2 separate regions of the Homo sapiens genome follow, and region 1 is linked to region 2. The links come from fine-mapping of genetic effects on gene expression. Tissue or cell type: whole blood. Region 2 holds a variant in brackets; the other region holds the start of a gene. All regions are shown on one strand. Distances are between the middles of the regions.

Evidence for each region. PIP is the estimated chance that this variant, and not a neighbour inherited with it, causes the effect.
Region 1: SSR1 starts here. The variant in region 2 is fine-mapped to the expression of SSR1 in whole blood (TOPMed, PIP 0.99).

Annotation. Positions count from the first base shown.
Region 1 is chr6:7,310,124-7,318,272 of GRCh38, reverse strand. SSR1 (signal sequence receptor subunit 1) reads left to right here and starts at 5,074. Exons shown (of 8, transcript NM_003144.5): 1 at 5,074-5,231. The coding sequence starts at 5,153. RefSeq lists enhancers at 4,699-4,758, 4,769-4,838, 4,175-5,041, 5,042-5,910 and silencers at 5,329-5,438, 5,569-5,618.
Region 2 is chr6:7,266,642-7,274,835 of GRCh38, reverse strand. No RefSeq gene overlaps it. Among named protein-coding and RNA genes, the nearest start is that of SSR1, 42 kb to the left of the region's middle. RefSeq lists enhancers at 903-1,404, 6,999-7,500 and a silencer at 7,126-7,420. The variant G/A (reference allele first, on the strand shown) is at 4,476.

The DNA of each region.
Region 1 (8,149 bases), 43 kb before region 2:
ATCCTCTGCTTTTACACATTCTAAGGGAATGAAATGACAGATGTGGAGAATCAACTACGGATTTGTCTGAGGTCTGTGAAGGAGAGTCACCAGGATATGGAATATTCCCTGAAAAGAAATCCCTTCAAAGAGATTGGTACAGACATGGGGAGAGATTTGGAAAGACTTAAATAAATTAGTAAATGGAATTCATAATTCCATAAATTAAGGATTGGAACCAAGTAGGGCAGAGAGCTCTGGGTGGGCACCAAGGAAAAGCTGCTTATTACGGGAAGAATGTGGATCACAGTGATGCAGAATTGGTGAGCACACTGGTCAGGGTGAGCCCCTTACTTCCTTGATCACAGCTGTCATTTTTTAATACTAATTGGACAGTCACACAGGTCTTCTGTTTTCTGTTTACATGTTATTTTCCCTAAATTCATCACATCAGTAATATCTCGAGTAGGCACACTTTATTTTTCCTGTTGTACCAATAGTAGCTGGTTGTGTAAAATTCAAGTCCCAAATAAAATCCGATAGTAATCGATTGATGACATCATCATTGGAGTGGAAGTCACAGGTTAAGCCTAAACTAAATTATCCTTACATGTTCAGGCTACGTCTAAACATCTGAGAACCGGTGAGACAGACCTACTAGGAATCTCTTTACCATAAAGAATGAGACGTCGTCCCCTTCAGTAATCAGTCCTCTGAATGGGGAAAGCAAGCCAGTAAGACACGGTGGTGCCGTGATGGAGAGCAGGTGTGATTTTGAGTACAGCATGAAGTCTGTAACTTCACCATCTATTACAGTTCCCATCAATTGTTTTTGGTGTTAGGAGAGAGTAGCAAGTTAAACAGAAAGATGTATTTGTCAAAACACCTGTCAGACATCAACAAGCTCAGAGCAGGTCTCATTTGAAACTCATGAAAGGGTGCCTCAAAGTAGGGGAGGGAGATTATGCTGAGTCAGTGGAGAACTCTGTAAGGTACAGTCACCTCAAAGCAGGGACAGCGTGCTGGCAGTCCTTGCTCGCTCTGGGGGCCTCCTCGGCCTTGGCGCCCACTCCAGCAGCGCTTGAGGAGCCCTTCAGCCCGCCGCTGCACTGTGGGAGCCCCTTTCTGGGCTGGCCAAGGCCAGAAGCGGCTCCCTCAGCTTGCGGGGAGGTGTGGAGGGAGAGGCGCGGGCGGGAACCAGGGCTGCGCGCGGCGCTTGTGGGCCAGCGCGAGTTCCGGGTGGGCGTGGGCTTGGCGGGCCCCGCACTCGGAGCGGCCAGCGGGTCCGGGCAGTGAAGGGCTTAGCACCTGGGCCAGCAGCTGCTGTGCTCTATGTCTCGCTAGGCCTTACCTGCTCCGCCGTGGGGCAAGGCTCGGGACCTGCAGCCTACCATGCCTGAGCCTCCCCGACGAGCGCCACCCCCAGCTCCACAGCGCCCAGTCCCATCGACCACCCAAGGGCTGAGGAGTGCTGGCGCACCGCGCGGGACTCGCAGGCAGCTCCACCTGCAGCCCCGGTGTGGGATCCACTGGGTGAAACCAGCTGGGCTCCTGAATCTAGTGGAGATTTAGAGAATCTTTCTGCCTAGCTGAGGGATTATAAACACACCAATCAGCACTCTGTATCTAACTCAAGGTTTATAAACACACCAATCAGCACACTGTATCTAGCTCAGGGTTTGTGAATGCACCAATTGGCACTCTAATCTGGTGGGGATTTGGAGAATGTCTAACTAAGGGATTGTGAATGTACCAATCAGCACTGTGTCTAGCCCAGGGTTTGTGAACACACCAATTGACACTCTGTGTATAGCTAACCCAGTGGGGACATGGAGAACTTTGTGTCTAGCTCACCAATTGAAAACACACCAATCAGCTCTAAAATAAACCAACCAGCAGAATGTGAAGCCAAATAAACGGAAAAAAAAGCAGGCTGCCTGAATCAGTGGCAACCTGCTCAGGTCCCACTCCAGTGTCCAGAATTGGGGGCTCATTAGCCTCCCTGACTTAAAGAATGAAGCTACAGACCCTCACAGTGAGTACTACAGTTCTTAAAGGCAGTGTATCCGGAGTTTCTTCCTTCTGGTGGGCTTGTAATCTCACTAGCCCAAGAGTAAACCCACAGACCTCCACAGTGAGCGTTACAGCTCTTAAGGTGGCATATCTTGAGTTATTCATTCTTCCTGGCGGGTTCGTGATTTCCCTAGCTTCAGGAGCGAAGCTGCAGACCTTCATAATGAGTGTTATAACTCATAAAGGCAATATGAGCTTAAAGAGCAAAAGAACAGATATTTTCCCAGCATGGAAAGAAACTGGAGCCTGTTGTCGCTGCTAAGCTCAGGGCAGCCTGCTTTTATTCTTATCTGGCCCCACCCACACCCTGCTGATTGGTAGAGCCGAGTGGCCTGTTTTGACTGGGCACTGATTGGTGCGTTTACAATCCCTGAGCTAGACACAAAGGTTCTCCACGTCCCCACTAGATTAGCTAGATACAGAGCGTGGACGCAAAGGTTCTCCAAGGTCCCACCAGAGTAGCTAGATACAAAGTGTCGATTGGTGCATTCACAAAGCCTGAGCTAGACACAGGGTGCTGATTGGTGTGTTTACAATCCCTGAGCTAGACATAAAGGTTCTCCACGTCTCCACCAGACTCAGAAGCCCAGCTGGCTTCACCCCGTGGAACCCGTACTGGGGCTGCAGGTGGAGCTGTCTGCCAGTCCCATGCCTGTGCACCTGTACTGATCAGCCCTTGGGTGGTGGAAGGAACTGGGCACCGTGCAGCAGGGGGTGGCGCTGGTCGGGGAGATTCCGGCTGCACAGAAGCCCATGGGGTTGGGGGAGGCTCAGACATGGTGGGCTGCAGGTCCCGAGCCCTGCCCCGCGGGAAGGCAGCTAAGGCCCGGTGAGAAATCGAGCACAGCAGCTGCTGGCCCAGGTTCTAAGCCCCTCACTGCCCCCCGCCTGGCCCAGTTGGCCGCTCCCACTGCAGGGCCCGCCAAGCCCACGCCCACCCGGAACTCGCACTGGCTGGCAAGCACCGCGCGTAACCCCAGTTCCCGCCCGCCCACGCCTCTCTCCACACCTTCCCGGCAAGCTGAGGGAGCTGGCTCCGGCCTTGGCCAGCCCAGAAAGGGGCTCCCACAGTGCAGCGGTGGGCTGAAGAGCTCCTCAAGTGCCACCAAAGTGGGGGCCCAGGCAGAGGAGGCGCCGAGAGCGAGCGAGGGCTGAGTACTGCCAGCATGCTGTCACCTCTCAGAAGCTTTGTTTTTTGCAATAAATCTTGCTGCTGCTCACTGCCTTTATGAGCTGTAACACTCACCGCGAAGGTCTGCAGCTTCACTCCTAAAGCCACCGAGACTATGAACCCACCAGGAGGAATGGACACCTTAACAGCTGTAACACTCACTGCGATGGTCTAGTAGCTTCACTCCTGAGCCAGTGAGACCATGAACCCACCAGAAGGAAGAAACTCGGAACACATCCGAACATGATGAAGGAACAAACTCTGGACTTTAAGAACTGTAACACTCAGCACGAGGGTCTGCGGTTTCAGTCTTAAAGTCAGTGAGACCAAGAACCCTATTCCAGACACAGCTCTGACATAGAGTGGCAACACTGGTAGCGTGCACAGGAGCAGAGGCAGCAGCAAAGTGAGAGGAGGCCCTCCACTTATGCTGGGCGCCCTAGTAGCAGCAGCAACACAGCAGCGGTGCCACTGGTGGCCTGGCAGAGTGGAATTTGGTTGATTCAGCCCAGCACCATCAGGCTGTGACTTTAGCAGACTGTAGGTAGTGGTGGCAGTGGGTCCAAGCTGCATTTACAGCCCCCAGGACAAGGAGACCTGAAGCGGAAACAATGCAGGAGTAGAACAGCAAATGTCCTAGGTCAGTAGTGTATGGAATCTGGAACCAGATAGCCTTGTTCAAATCTTGCATCTGCCGTTTGCTAGCGTTTTGAAGCTTTGAGTAAATTACTAACCTCTCTGGGTCTGTTTTCTCCTCAGTAAATAATATCCAGCTCATAGAGAGGTTTAGAAAATTAAATGAAAAAGCACAGCTCTAAGGAGGTGATTGACAATAGTAAGCATATGATTTATTTCCTCATCTTTATGACATCTCACTCTGGTCCAGACCAAGATTACTTAATATTCAGATTAATTTCATGAACTGCTATATTACTCCAGCAACTCAAATCCAAAATAGATGAAAAGGAAACTAAAGAAAACTGGACAGCCATTGCTGCACCTATTGTATAGTTACAAATGCTGACTACATACCAAAACACTGTTTAGGTGACTTATAATTCTGGAATGTCACATACGAATTTAAGAATTGCTGGCCAGGCGCAGTGGCTCACACCTGTAATCCCAGCACTTTGAGAGACCCAGGCGGGTGGATCACCTGAGGTCAGGAGTTTGAGATTAGTCTGGCCAACATGGTGAAACCCCCGTCTCCAGTAAAAATACAAAAATTAGCCGGGCGTAGTGGTGCGCGCCTGTAGTCCCAGCTGCTTAGGAGGCTGAGGCGGGAGAATCGCTTGAACCCGGGAGGCGGAGGTTGCGGTGAACAGAGATGGTGCCACTGAACTCTGGCCTGGGCGACAGAGCAAGACTTCGTCTCAAAAATAATAATTTAAGAATTGTCATTACTTAACCATGGGAGAGGGTGTGGGCAGACAGGGGACAAAGATTTTCCACTGTGTATTTTCATGGTTTTTCCTTTGAACAATGTCCTCTCTTCCAACAAAATTTTTTGCTTTTAAGTGCCACATAAAGGCAGCTCATGTTCCTTACATCGCCGTTATCAAGAGGATCGTCATTCAAATAAAGTAACCACTGACAATGCTAATTAATTGGAAGTAAAGAACTGGGCGGAAAGAACGGCTAACCGCAAGCTGCCGGGTCGCAACTGCGGCGGAAGGCGGACTCTCGCGGGAGCCACAAAGAGGCAGCAGCCGGCCACGTGACTTCCCGGTGGCCTGCTCTCCCCACCTCTCCGCGCTGAGCAGCCACGTCGGCGGCGGTCCCTGGTCCAGGGAGGGGCGTGGCAAAGGCCCGTGCGCGGTACGTGTCCCGCCCCTCGCTGCCCGGAGCCCGGATGAAGAGTAACGCCATTACCGCCGGAGCCGCCGAGAGCCTTAGCCGACGGAAACTGGACACTGGACCGGCAGCGCCATGAGACTCCTCCCCCGCTTGCTGCTGCTTCTCTTACTCGTGTTCCCTGCCACTGTCTTGTTCCGAGGCGGCCCCAGAGGTGAGGCTGGGGGAGTGTGCGGAGGGGATGGCCAGGAAGGAGATGCCAGTGATGGCAAGTTTGAAGTTGGAGGCGGTGGCCGCTCCGGGTCCTGGGGTCCGCGTCCACCCCGCTGGCCTCTCTCCGCCCTCTCCCCAAGCCTAGGCTCGTAGCAGCAGGGGTCCCCGCGGGCGCTGGAGACCCCGCTGCGGCCTGCCCCTTGCACGCGGAGCGCGGGGCCGTGCCCGGGCGACCTTGCTTCGTGGCCGGCCGAGGGCTGGGCTTGCTCCTCTTGCCCTGGACCCTCGCCTGCAGGAGCGGCCAGAACTGGAGGGTCCTCGGCTGCAGGAGGAGGCGCTGGACACGGCTGCGCTCCGAGCGCGCCGCAGCCGGGCTGTTTCTTTTGGCCACCTCCGGCTCCGCTCCACCCCCAGCCCCTCGCGCTCAGGGCTGACGTGTCTTTAGCTTCCACGCCGGGAGTCCGTCTTCATTCATTTGCCAAAACCCTTGTTTTCTACACATCTAAGCCATCAGAGTGTCTTGTTCAATGGTCATCTGCCTTGTTCACGCCCTGCTTGACCCGTATGTGTTACTAGGAGGCTTGATTTCAGAAAAACTACCCCATCGTCACCCCCGTTATCCGCCCCTGCTGCCAAGCAGACTGAAGAATCCCTGTGGGATGTCTCCCTTCTGCCTTCTTCCTCTTCTTGTCTTTCCATGGAACAATTTTTTGTTTGTGGAAACATCGTATTGTGCTGAAAAAATGTGGCCTACTTCGAGTGTTTTTAATACATAGATTTATTCTTTCAACAATTAACCCAGCAATTAAGTGTGAAAATAACTTAGCAGAATATAAAAATATGGCAACTTGACTTCCTGCACAGGTTTTGTCGTGAACTTCGACTTTCTAATTTGTAAAGTGAAATAATTAGTCTGACTAAGCATCCCTTTCATTCTGTAAGTTTAAGCAAGCTGTGTGTCTTAACGGTAGTGACAGGTATTCACGAGTTGTTTTGCGATGAAAAGTGAAGTGACTGGCTTCTGTTTAATGGCTAGAAAACCAAGTGGGAGAATTAAACAACTGTTAATGAGTTAATCTGCAGGTTTAACAAGATTTTTTACTTTAGGAGTCGTTTGCTGGTACTCTTTAAGCTTTTTAAAAGAAAACTTGACAAATGTAGTTTTAGTTTTAGAACTATTTATAACTATTTTCAAGTTATAAAAACTTTCAAGAAGCATGAATTCATTATCTAAACTGAATTAATATCTTGTAAACATTTTTTGTGAGAAACGGTTTTTGTGTTTGGTTTTTCCAGTTGAATGAAGACTGTTAGACTTCATGGGGACAAAATTGTTATTGGTTAACATTAAAATAATAAAATTGTTTAATATTTATGAAAGGCCTTTATATTCCAAAGTGCTCAAATTTAACCACGACTTTAAATTACTATATCAGACATGGTATTTTTCTTACTGGTTTTTGAAAAGGACTTGTAAGTTATGAATGCACTATTTTAGGCTTTGTTCAGCAGGCAGTGAAATCTCTTTAGTTCATAATGCATGGTTCAGTGTTCTTTAATATTTTGCAATAAATCTTAGCAGCCAGTGAGAACTTAAAGACATGGAAAAGACTGCAAATGCATGGTCCTTAACTGTTTCTCCTGGGTGAAAACACGCTTCCCTTCCCATGTTTTTTATCCACAGAATTGCCACATCATCATTTTTTCTGAGAGATGTTGGAAGACACTAGAACTTTGAAATTCTTTTTATGGTCTTGCCTGAAATAGATATAATGTGACTTACTTAGAGTACTATTGTCTATAAAACTGTGATTCACCTTTTTTTTGCATTATACCTGTACTTTGTAACACTAAGTTTGAGAAAAAATATCTTAAAACATGTTTGAAGCCACATGCAAAAATAATTGGATTCTTTCTTTGCTATCAAACCTGAAGCTACCAATACAGTTTTTACTAAACAATGTTTTTCATGCAAGCCAGTTTTTACCATGGATATGATTACAGATATTTGTTCCTTGGCTTACAAACTATCCAGTTCTAAGAGTTTCAGCTGTAGTCACCTCTGATAACAGTGTTTCCTACATAGAACATTAGAACTTAAGAATGCTTTATTTTTTTATTTTTATTTTTTTGAGACGGTGTCTTGCTGTGTCGCCCAGGCTGGAGTGCAGTGGTACAATCTTGGCTCACTGCAACTTCTGCCTCCTGGGTTCAAGCGATTCTCCTGCCTCAGCCTCTGGAGTAGCTGGAACCACAGGTGTGTGCCACCACACCCAGCTAATTTTTGCATTTTCAGTAGAGGCGGGGTTTCTCTGTATTGGCCAGGCTGGTCTTGAACTCCTGGCCTCAAGTAATTCACCCTCCTCAGCCTTCTAAAGTGCTGGGATTACAGGCGTGAGCCACCGCGCCGGCCAAGAATGCTGTTTTCTTTTAAACGTGGGGGTTGTTTAGTTTGCTTTGTATGGTTAATGACAGGGATTACATTTAGAAGTTTCTTATCTTTGCAAAAAATTATTTTCCTTAATTTGCTTAACAAAGTTGCTTGAAGTTCTTTGTGCTTCAAGGCATCTTTAGTTTGTGCCATTCATTTTTCCATCTGTTGGGCACTTTTTGAAGTTAAACCACATTTCCCATTAAAAATAACATGGAAGGCAGGGAACAGTGGTTCACGCCTCTAGTCCTAGCTACCCAGGAAGCTGAGGTGGAAGGATCACTTGGGCCCAGGAGTTTGAGGCTGCAGTGAGCTATGACTGCACAACTGTACTCCCAACCTAGGCATCAGAGCAAGACCCTGACTCTTAAAAAAAAAAAAAAAAAATTGATATGCAGTTGTTAAGACTACTAGTAAACTAAAATATAAATATTCTTCGGTGCATTGTAATTGGCATCATTCAGGTGAACTGGGAGATTCTGTTAGTC
Region 2 (8,194 bases):
CTTACAACAGCCCTTGATGTGTTTGAAGAGAGCTATCACTTCTTTCTTTGTGAACAATCATGTTATCCAGGCCAAGGTCAAATGTCCTGCAGCCTACATGGGTGTTTTAAAGACTATATTCCGGGCCGGGCGCAGTGGCTCTTAATCCCAGCACTTCGGGAGGCCGAGGCGGGCAGATCATGAGGTCAGGAGTTTGAGACCAGCCTGGCCAACATGGTGAAACCCCGTCTGTACTAAAAATACAAAAATTAGCTGGGCATGGTGGCACGTGCCTGTAATCTCAGCTACTCAGGAGCCTGAAGAAGGAGAATTGCTTGAACCTGGGAGGCGGAGGTTGCAGTGAGCCAAGATTGAGCCACTGCACTCCAGCCTGGGCGACAGAGCGAGACTCTGTCTTAAAAAAAAATATATATATATATTATATATATATAATATATATTATATATATATTATATATATATATATAATATATATTATATATATATATATTATATATAATATATATATAATATATATATTTCCATAGAGCAATTTTGTTTTCAAGGAAACACTGCCTTTATTAAGATAATTGTCTGGCTCCTTGAAACCTTACAGATTCTATTGAATTATGTAAATTAAAGGGTCCAAGTGATGACCTGAGATAAAAGATGGAAATGATGGCCATTAGCTCTCTCCCTCCAAAACACGTTACTTCAGCAATTCCTTCCTGCTCTGTGGCACTTGCAAAGTGCCCCGAGACTGGGGGTAAAGGGTGGGGCTTCCTTGAAGTGCAAGGTTCAGGATGCCATCCCCAGGGAGGCTCTGACACTGGGCTGGGGCCCAGGAGTCTGTATTTTAACAAGTGCTGCTGGTTTTCCCACAAGCGTGCTGCACACCGTTACCCAGGGCAAGCTGTGGCTGACAGCCACGACGTCCCTAAGCAGCCATGTGGCAGGCTGGCACCAGCACGCCGAGGGCGGGGGGAGCCTGTGTCTGATGAGGCTCCTGCTGCCCAGCCGTGTTCCGTGACCCCTTCCTGATACTTCTCACCCTTTGTTTCATAGCTGCAAGGTCACCTGAAATGGGTGGGGGCTGCTGCCCCTTACTGAGCACTTAGCTCTGACCTGGGACCCTCAAAGCATTTGACTTGTGTTCACTCATCCCGTTCTCTATCTGAGAGCATTTGACTTGTGTTCACTCATCCCGTTCTCTGAGAGCATTTGACTTGTGTTCACTCATACCGTTCTCTATCTGAGAGCATCTGACTTGTGTTCACTCATACCGTTCTCTATCTGAGAGCATCTGACTTGTGTTCACTCATCCCGTTCTCTATCTGAGAGCATCTGACTTGTGTTCACTCATACCATTCTCTACCTGAGAGCATCTGACTTGTGTTCACTCATACCGTTCTCTGAGAGCATCTGACTTGTGTTCACTCATACCGTTCTCTGAGAGCATCTGACTTGTGTTCACTCATACCGTTCTCTATCTGAGAGCATCTGACTTGTGTTCACTCATACCGTTCTCTATCTGAGAGCATCTGACTTGTGTTCACTCATACCGTTCTCTATCTGAGAGCATCTGACTTGTGTTCACTCATACCGTTCTCTATCTGAGAGCATCTGACTTGTGTTCACTCATACCATTCTCTACCTGAGAGCATCTGACTTGTGTTCACTCATACCGTTCTCTGAGAGCATCTGACTTGTGTTCACTCATACCGTTCTCTACCTGAGAGCATCTGACTTGTGTTCACTCATACCGTTCTCTACCTGAGAGCATCTGACTTGTGTTCACTCATACCGTTCTCTACCTGAGAGCATCTGACTTGTGTTCACTCATACCGTTCTCTACCTGAGAGCATCTGACTTGTGTTCACTCATCCCGTTCTCTACCTGAGAGCATCTGACTTGTGTTCACTCATACCGTTCTCTATCTGAGAGCATCTGACTTGTGTTCACTCATCCCGTTCTCTATCTGAGAGCATCTGACTTGTGTTCACTCATCCCGTTCTCTATCTGAGAGCATCTGACTTGTGTTCACTCATACCGTTCTCTGAGAGCATCTGACTTGTGTTCACTCATACCGTTCTCTATCTGAGAGCATCTGACTTGTGTTCACTCATACCGTTCTCTATCTGAGAGCATCTGACTTGTCTTCACTCATACCGTTCTCTGAGAGCATCTGACTTGTCTTCACTCATACCGTTCTCTATCTGAGAGCATCTGACTTGTCTTCACTCATCCCGTTCTCTATCTGAGAGCATCTGACTTGTGTTCACTCATCCCGTTCTCTGAGAGCATTTGACTTGTGTTCACTCATACCGTTCTCTATCTGAGAGCATTTGACTTGTGTTCACTCATCCCGTTCTCTATCTGAGAGCATTTGACTTGTGTTCACTCATCCCGTTCTCTGAGAGCATCTGACTTGTGTTCACTCATACCGTTCTCTATCTGAGAGCATCTGACTTGTGTTCACTCATACCATTCTCTATCTGAGAGCATCTGACTTGTGTTCACTCATACCGTTCTCTATCTGAGAGCATCTGACTTGTGTTCACTCATCCCGTTCTCTACCTGAGAGCATCTGACTTGTGTTCACTCATACCGTTCTCTACCTGAGAGCATCTGACTTGTGTTCACTCATCCCGTTCTCTATCTGAGAGCATCTGACTTGTGTTCACTCATACCGTTCTCTGAGAGCATCTGACTTGTGTTCACTCATCCCGTTCTCTATCTGAGAGCATCTGACTTGTGTTCACTCATACCGTTCTCTGAGAGCATCTGACTTGTGTTCACTCATACCGTTCTCTATCTGAGAGCATCTGACTTGTGTTCACTCATACCGTTCTCTATCTGAGAGCATCTGACTTGTGTTCACTCATCCCGTTCTCTATCTGAGAGCATCTGACTTGTCTTCACTCATACCGTTCTCTATCTGAGACAGGTTATGATATCACCATTTTAGAGCTGAGCAAATTGAGGTATAGAACGGTAAGGCTGCCCAGCTAGTGAGAAAGGTAGCCAGGATCTGGAGGTGGGTAGGCTGGCCCCAGGAGTGCCCCCACTCTCTCCAGCGAACGGTAGACCCAGCCAAACACCCGTATCCCAGAGGCACCTGGAACTCCATATGGGGATTGATCATTTTCCTTCCCTAAACCACTTTTCTTTTTTTTTCTGGAGACAGAGTTTTGCTCTTGTTGCCCAGGCTGGAGTGCAGTGGTGCGATCTTGGCTCACCAAAACCTCCACCTCCCGGGTTCAAGCGATTCTCCCGCCTCAGCCTCCCGAGTAGCTGGGATTACAGGCATGCACCACTATGCCTGGCTAATTTTTTATGTTTTCAGTAAAGACAGGGTTTCTCCATGTTGGTCAGGCTGGTCTCGAATTCCCGACCTCAGGTGATCCACCCGCCACAGACTCCCAAAGTGTTGGGATTACAGGCGTGAGACACCGCGCCCAGCCCCAAACCACTTTTTCCTGCAGTTTTTCCTGTCTCGGTTGGTGCCATCGCTTCCAGAAGAAACTCCCTTTGTGCAGACCCCCTCCATCCTCCTGCCTCTTAACAGTCTTTTATATCCAGCTCTTCGGCGGCCCTGCCCTGCTCTGGGCCTTAGGAATGTGTGGCAACTCTTGGTTCCCGTGTGCTGCCCCGTGTGGGCGTGGTGCCCGCCTTTGGCTGCAGTGCTGTGAGAGCCCTGCCCCACTCTCCCAGCTGCCAGTCTGGTCCCCTTCCAGCCCACCACCTGAGCTGCTTCTGTGGTCATTGTCAAATAGCATTCTGACCCTGTTGCTCTCTCCTGCTGGAAACCTTCTAAAGGTTCCCCACAACCATCAGGACAAAGTTCTCCACCATTAGCCTCTGCCTGCCCTTTGGCCCTTCTGTCTCACTGGTCCTGCTGTGAATTTGTACTCCAGCCCAGCAGCTCATTCCCTGTGCACACCACACTGGTGCCACCTCCTGCCTGCACAGGCTGCCCTCTCTCCCAGACTCTCTGCCACCTTCAAACTTACACAAAAGTTACAAAATAGTATAAAGAAATTCCCTGTGCCCTTCACCTTCACCCAGATCGTGGTTAGCATTTCACCATATACAAATGCACACACCCACCATATGTATATTTTTCTGAGCTCTCTGGGAGTGAATTGCAGATATGCTATTTCCCCTTCCCCCAAATCCACCAGTGTTTACCTCCTAAGAACAAACATTCTTTTTTTTTTTTTTTTTCAGAGACAGTTTTGCTCTTGTTGTCCAGGCTGGAGTGCAGTGGCGTGATCTCGGCTCACCGCAACCTCCGCCTCCCAGGTTCAAGCAATTCTCCTGCCTCAGCCTCCCGTAGCTGGGATTACAGGCATGCGCCATCACACCCGGCTAATTTTGTACTTTTAGTAGACATGGGATTTCTCCATGTTGGTCAGGCTGGTCTCAAACTCCCGACCTCAGGTGATCCACCCGCCTCGGCCTCCCAAAATGCTGGGATTACAGGCGTGAGCCACC[G/A]TACCCGGCCCAAACATTCTCTTACATAACTAAACTACAGTTATAAAAGTCAGGAAATTTAACATTTTTGTAATGGTTTCTAAACTACAGGCTGTGCTCAGATTTCACTAATTGTCTCAGCAATCCTCTTGATGGCTATTTTTTTTCCTGGTTTGGGATCACGCAGTATGTTTAGTTGTCATGTCTTGGTTTCCTTTGTTCTGGAACAGCCTCTCTTTCAGCGTCCCTGGCATTTTTAAAGAGCGCAGGCTAGTTGTTTTGCAGAGAGTACCCCAGGGAGAGTTTGTGTGATCCTTCCTCTGGATTAGATTCAGATTCTGCCTTTTTGGCAAGAACAGCCCTGCAGCAATGCTCTGGCCTTCCCAGCTCAGCATCTCAAGGACCACATGGTGCTGCTGGGTTGGCCCCGTTACTGGTGATGTGGATACTGATGACTTGGGAATGGTGGGGTCTTATTTATTTTTTACAACCTCCGTATTCATGACCCCTCTTCTAAGAAAGCTTGCATAGACCCCTCCAGGCACCCACAGTTAGGGTAGGTGTCTGTTCCCTCACCTGAGTCCTGGGTACAGTGCCTCACCTGCACTGACCAAGCCATCTTGGTGTGTGTCTCTTCCCCCGCTTGACTGCAAGGCTCAGGGGACCTCATCTTGCTCATGATGGTGCCCCAGCTCCTATGGGCCTGGCACATAGTAGGCACTTAATATATTAAGATTTCTTGAGTGAATGAAAGAATGAGTGAGATTTCGGAGCTGATTGAGTTACAAAGCAGAAACCTCCAAATCTCTCCAGATAGGTCTTTGTGTGCAGTTTTCACTGCTTTACTCGTGAAGCATGGCTAAATGTTGGGGTTTCTTTTTATGCCAGATTCTCACTGAAAGCATGAAACTCTGATCAAATCCCAAGAAAAAAGCATGATATTTATCCTTCCTTTGGGGAATCACAGAATGGACCAGTTTTAGAAACTTGGAACCCCATCCTAGATTTTTCCATGTGTTTCTTCATGGGAGGGTGGATGGGTGTGAGGGGAGAGTCTCTGGGTCTTTGATTGTGGGAACTATTTGGCCTGGACAGAGCAGCAGAGAGTCTTGGGCCCCCCGCCCTGCTGCCTCTGTCCAGCCACACACTTCATGCACCAGTAGGGAAGTGCCTGGCGGGGCGTCTGGAAGCCTCTCAGGAGGTCACTGTCTCCCTTTGCTCTTTCAGACGCAGGAGGAGGGAGACGCACTGATGACATCGGGCCGCTCCTGCAGCTCGGGCGCCTCGCAGTCTCCAGGTGCAAGGCCAGCGCTTCCGCCGTGGCTGCTTCAGGACATCCCCCAGCACAGCCGTTCCTGGAGACCCGGCCATCTTTTCTGCATCGTTTTGCAATTTGTGAAACTTAGGACAGCAGCCGCCTGTTCAACCGGGCCCTCCGCCGGATGGCTCTGGGAAGTCACCGCTGGGCATGGCTGTGTCACTAGGGCTTTGTGGCTGATGAATAACAGCTGTCGTGTGCTGTTTCTGGGTGGAGATGTCCCAGGAAACCAGTCCTACTCTGCCAGCCAGTAGGATGGGGATGCAGGTCCCGCCAGCAAGGACTGGCTGAACCGTGCGACCCATGCAGTAGGGCCCTTGGGTCAGCTGTCCCCACCCACTACACTGATGGTGAATGAGGCCAGAAGACAGGGGGCTCTGCGTGAAGCCCACCAGCCCCTGCCACGTGATGGTTGGAACGCGTACCTTAGAGCTTCCAGTTCCGTCTTAGGACATTTTCAAAGATGAGCGTCCTCAGGAGGGGCGGTGGAGGGGGCATGTCTGGAGGGACCTGAGGCACGGGGAGCGCTCGGTGCCCAGGCCGAGCAGTGCCACACGTGCGCACGAGTTATGCCTGCAAACACGGGTTACGCCTGTGAGACCAGTGGGCTCCTTCCAGCCGGGCTGCCTGAGGCCACTGTCTGTGTGTTGGTGCCCATTGTGGGCTCCGGGGCGCTCTTCCCTTGTGCTGACGTGAGTGGAGTTGAATTGCCCTGAATCAGATTAGACTGAAATAAACTGAATTGAAAGGCCTACAAATAAGTATGAATCTCTTGCTGAGTGCCAGGCTCTGGGGAGTCACAGCTGAGTAAGACAGCCGCTGCCTGTCTTCACACTAGCCGGGCCCATAACTAATATTATGGACTTGCAGCAAGAACATATTGGGGGTGGTGGGTGGGAGTGGGGAGGGGGGCGAGAGGCTTCAGGAGGAGGAGATCTTTGAGCTGAGCCTTTGAGAATGGGAGTGGGGATTTTGGAAAAAGGTGAAGGTAAGAAGGACACAGGGGACCTGGGAGGCAACAGGAGCAGAGGTGCGCTGCATCTGAGGCGAACACAGGAGAGGGCGGAGACGCAGTGCTCACTTGCCACCTGACAGAGGCACACACGTGCACACAGAGTCACAGGCAGAGAGAGGCATCGCACACTCAGCCTGTGAGCCACACGCATCAGAACCACCCAGAACACACACACATACCTACTCCAGCAGAATCTCAGGGAGCCGACCCAGGAAGCTGCATTTTAAAACAAGCTCTACATGGGAATTCAGAGATTGACAGTGTGTGTGTTGGGGGCGGGTGGTAAGCCTCTGTCAGCCAGCGGGGGTGCGGGGGCATTCAGTGATTTGCAGGCTGGGCCTGCCAGGATTTGCCCCTGGCACATGAGTAATTGTTGCACTTCACCACACAGCACAGTTGCCTGCAGGACTTGTCCACACACAGACTGCTGGGCTCCACCCCCGAAATTCTGAGTCAGTCGGCCTGGAATTGGGCCCAGAATTGCTTGCTGATCAGTTCCCTGATGGGTGATGCTGGTACAGGGGCCTCTGAGAAAAAGATGGATTGGAGAGAGATGAGGCATCAGCCAGACTGAAGGAAGCCCTCACTGGCTCTCCTGAGACTGAGGTGCCGGGACAGTCGCAATATTTGCAGCACTTTGATTTGACCAGATGTGCCTTTCTCTTCTGTGTGCCCATCCTTGGTTTCAAGCCCGGCCTGTGACAGTAGTATGGTATTCTGGACATATGACAGACACCCAGTGCCCCGATCTGAAGATGGGTGAGCCTGGGTCACGCCGCCCAGTGGTCCCCGCCAGGGTCCCTTGCTCAGGGTGATGCCATCTCCTAAGCGGTGCAGCAGAGACCTGTGGCTCTGAGGCCACTTAGGAGCATTTCTGGGCATCCATGCAGTGCCTTGATTCCAGCACCCAGAAATGCTTCCAGTGTTACCAAGGTCACAGGTGGAAACCCCAGATGTCCCTTGGAAGGCTGTGCTGCCATCACCCGTGGGGCTTGGTCACGTCCTGGATCTAGGGGTGATCATTTATCAGCAGGCTACACAGGATTGGAAGAAGGGCCCCTGGGAATGATAAGTCTGTTCCCAGTAGGAACCCAATGTACCACCAGCAAGGAGCTCAGCACTGTGCTCAAGCCCAAAGGCACAACCAGCTTCCAAATCCCATCTTTGCAGGTCTATGGCTGGGACTACTCATGGTACCAATGCTGTACCAAGCAAGAGAGGAAACCACATATTAATTTGAATGGGGGAAGTTTGACATAACTGTAACAGGTTTAGAGTAGTGAGGGGTTGGCTAGTAAGAAGTCAACTCCAATCATCTAGGAAGAGCAGCTATAAGAAACAGCCTCTCAGCTGAGATCCTGCCACTGCACTTCAGTCTCTGGGCGACAGAGCAAGACTCTGTCTCAA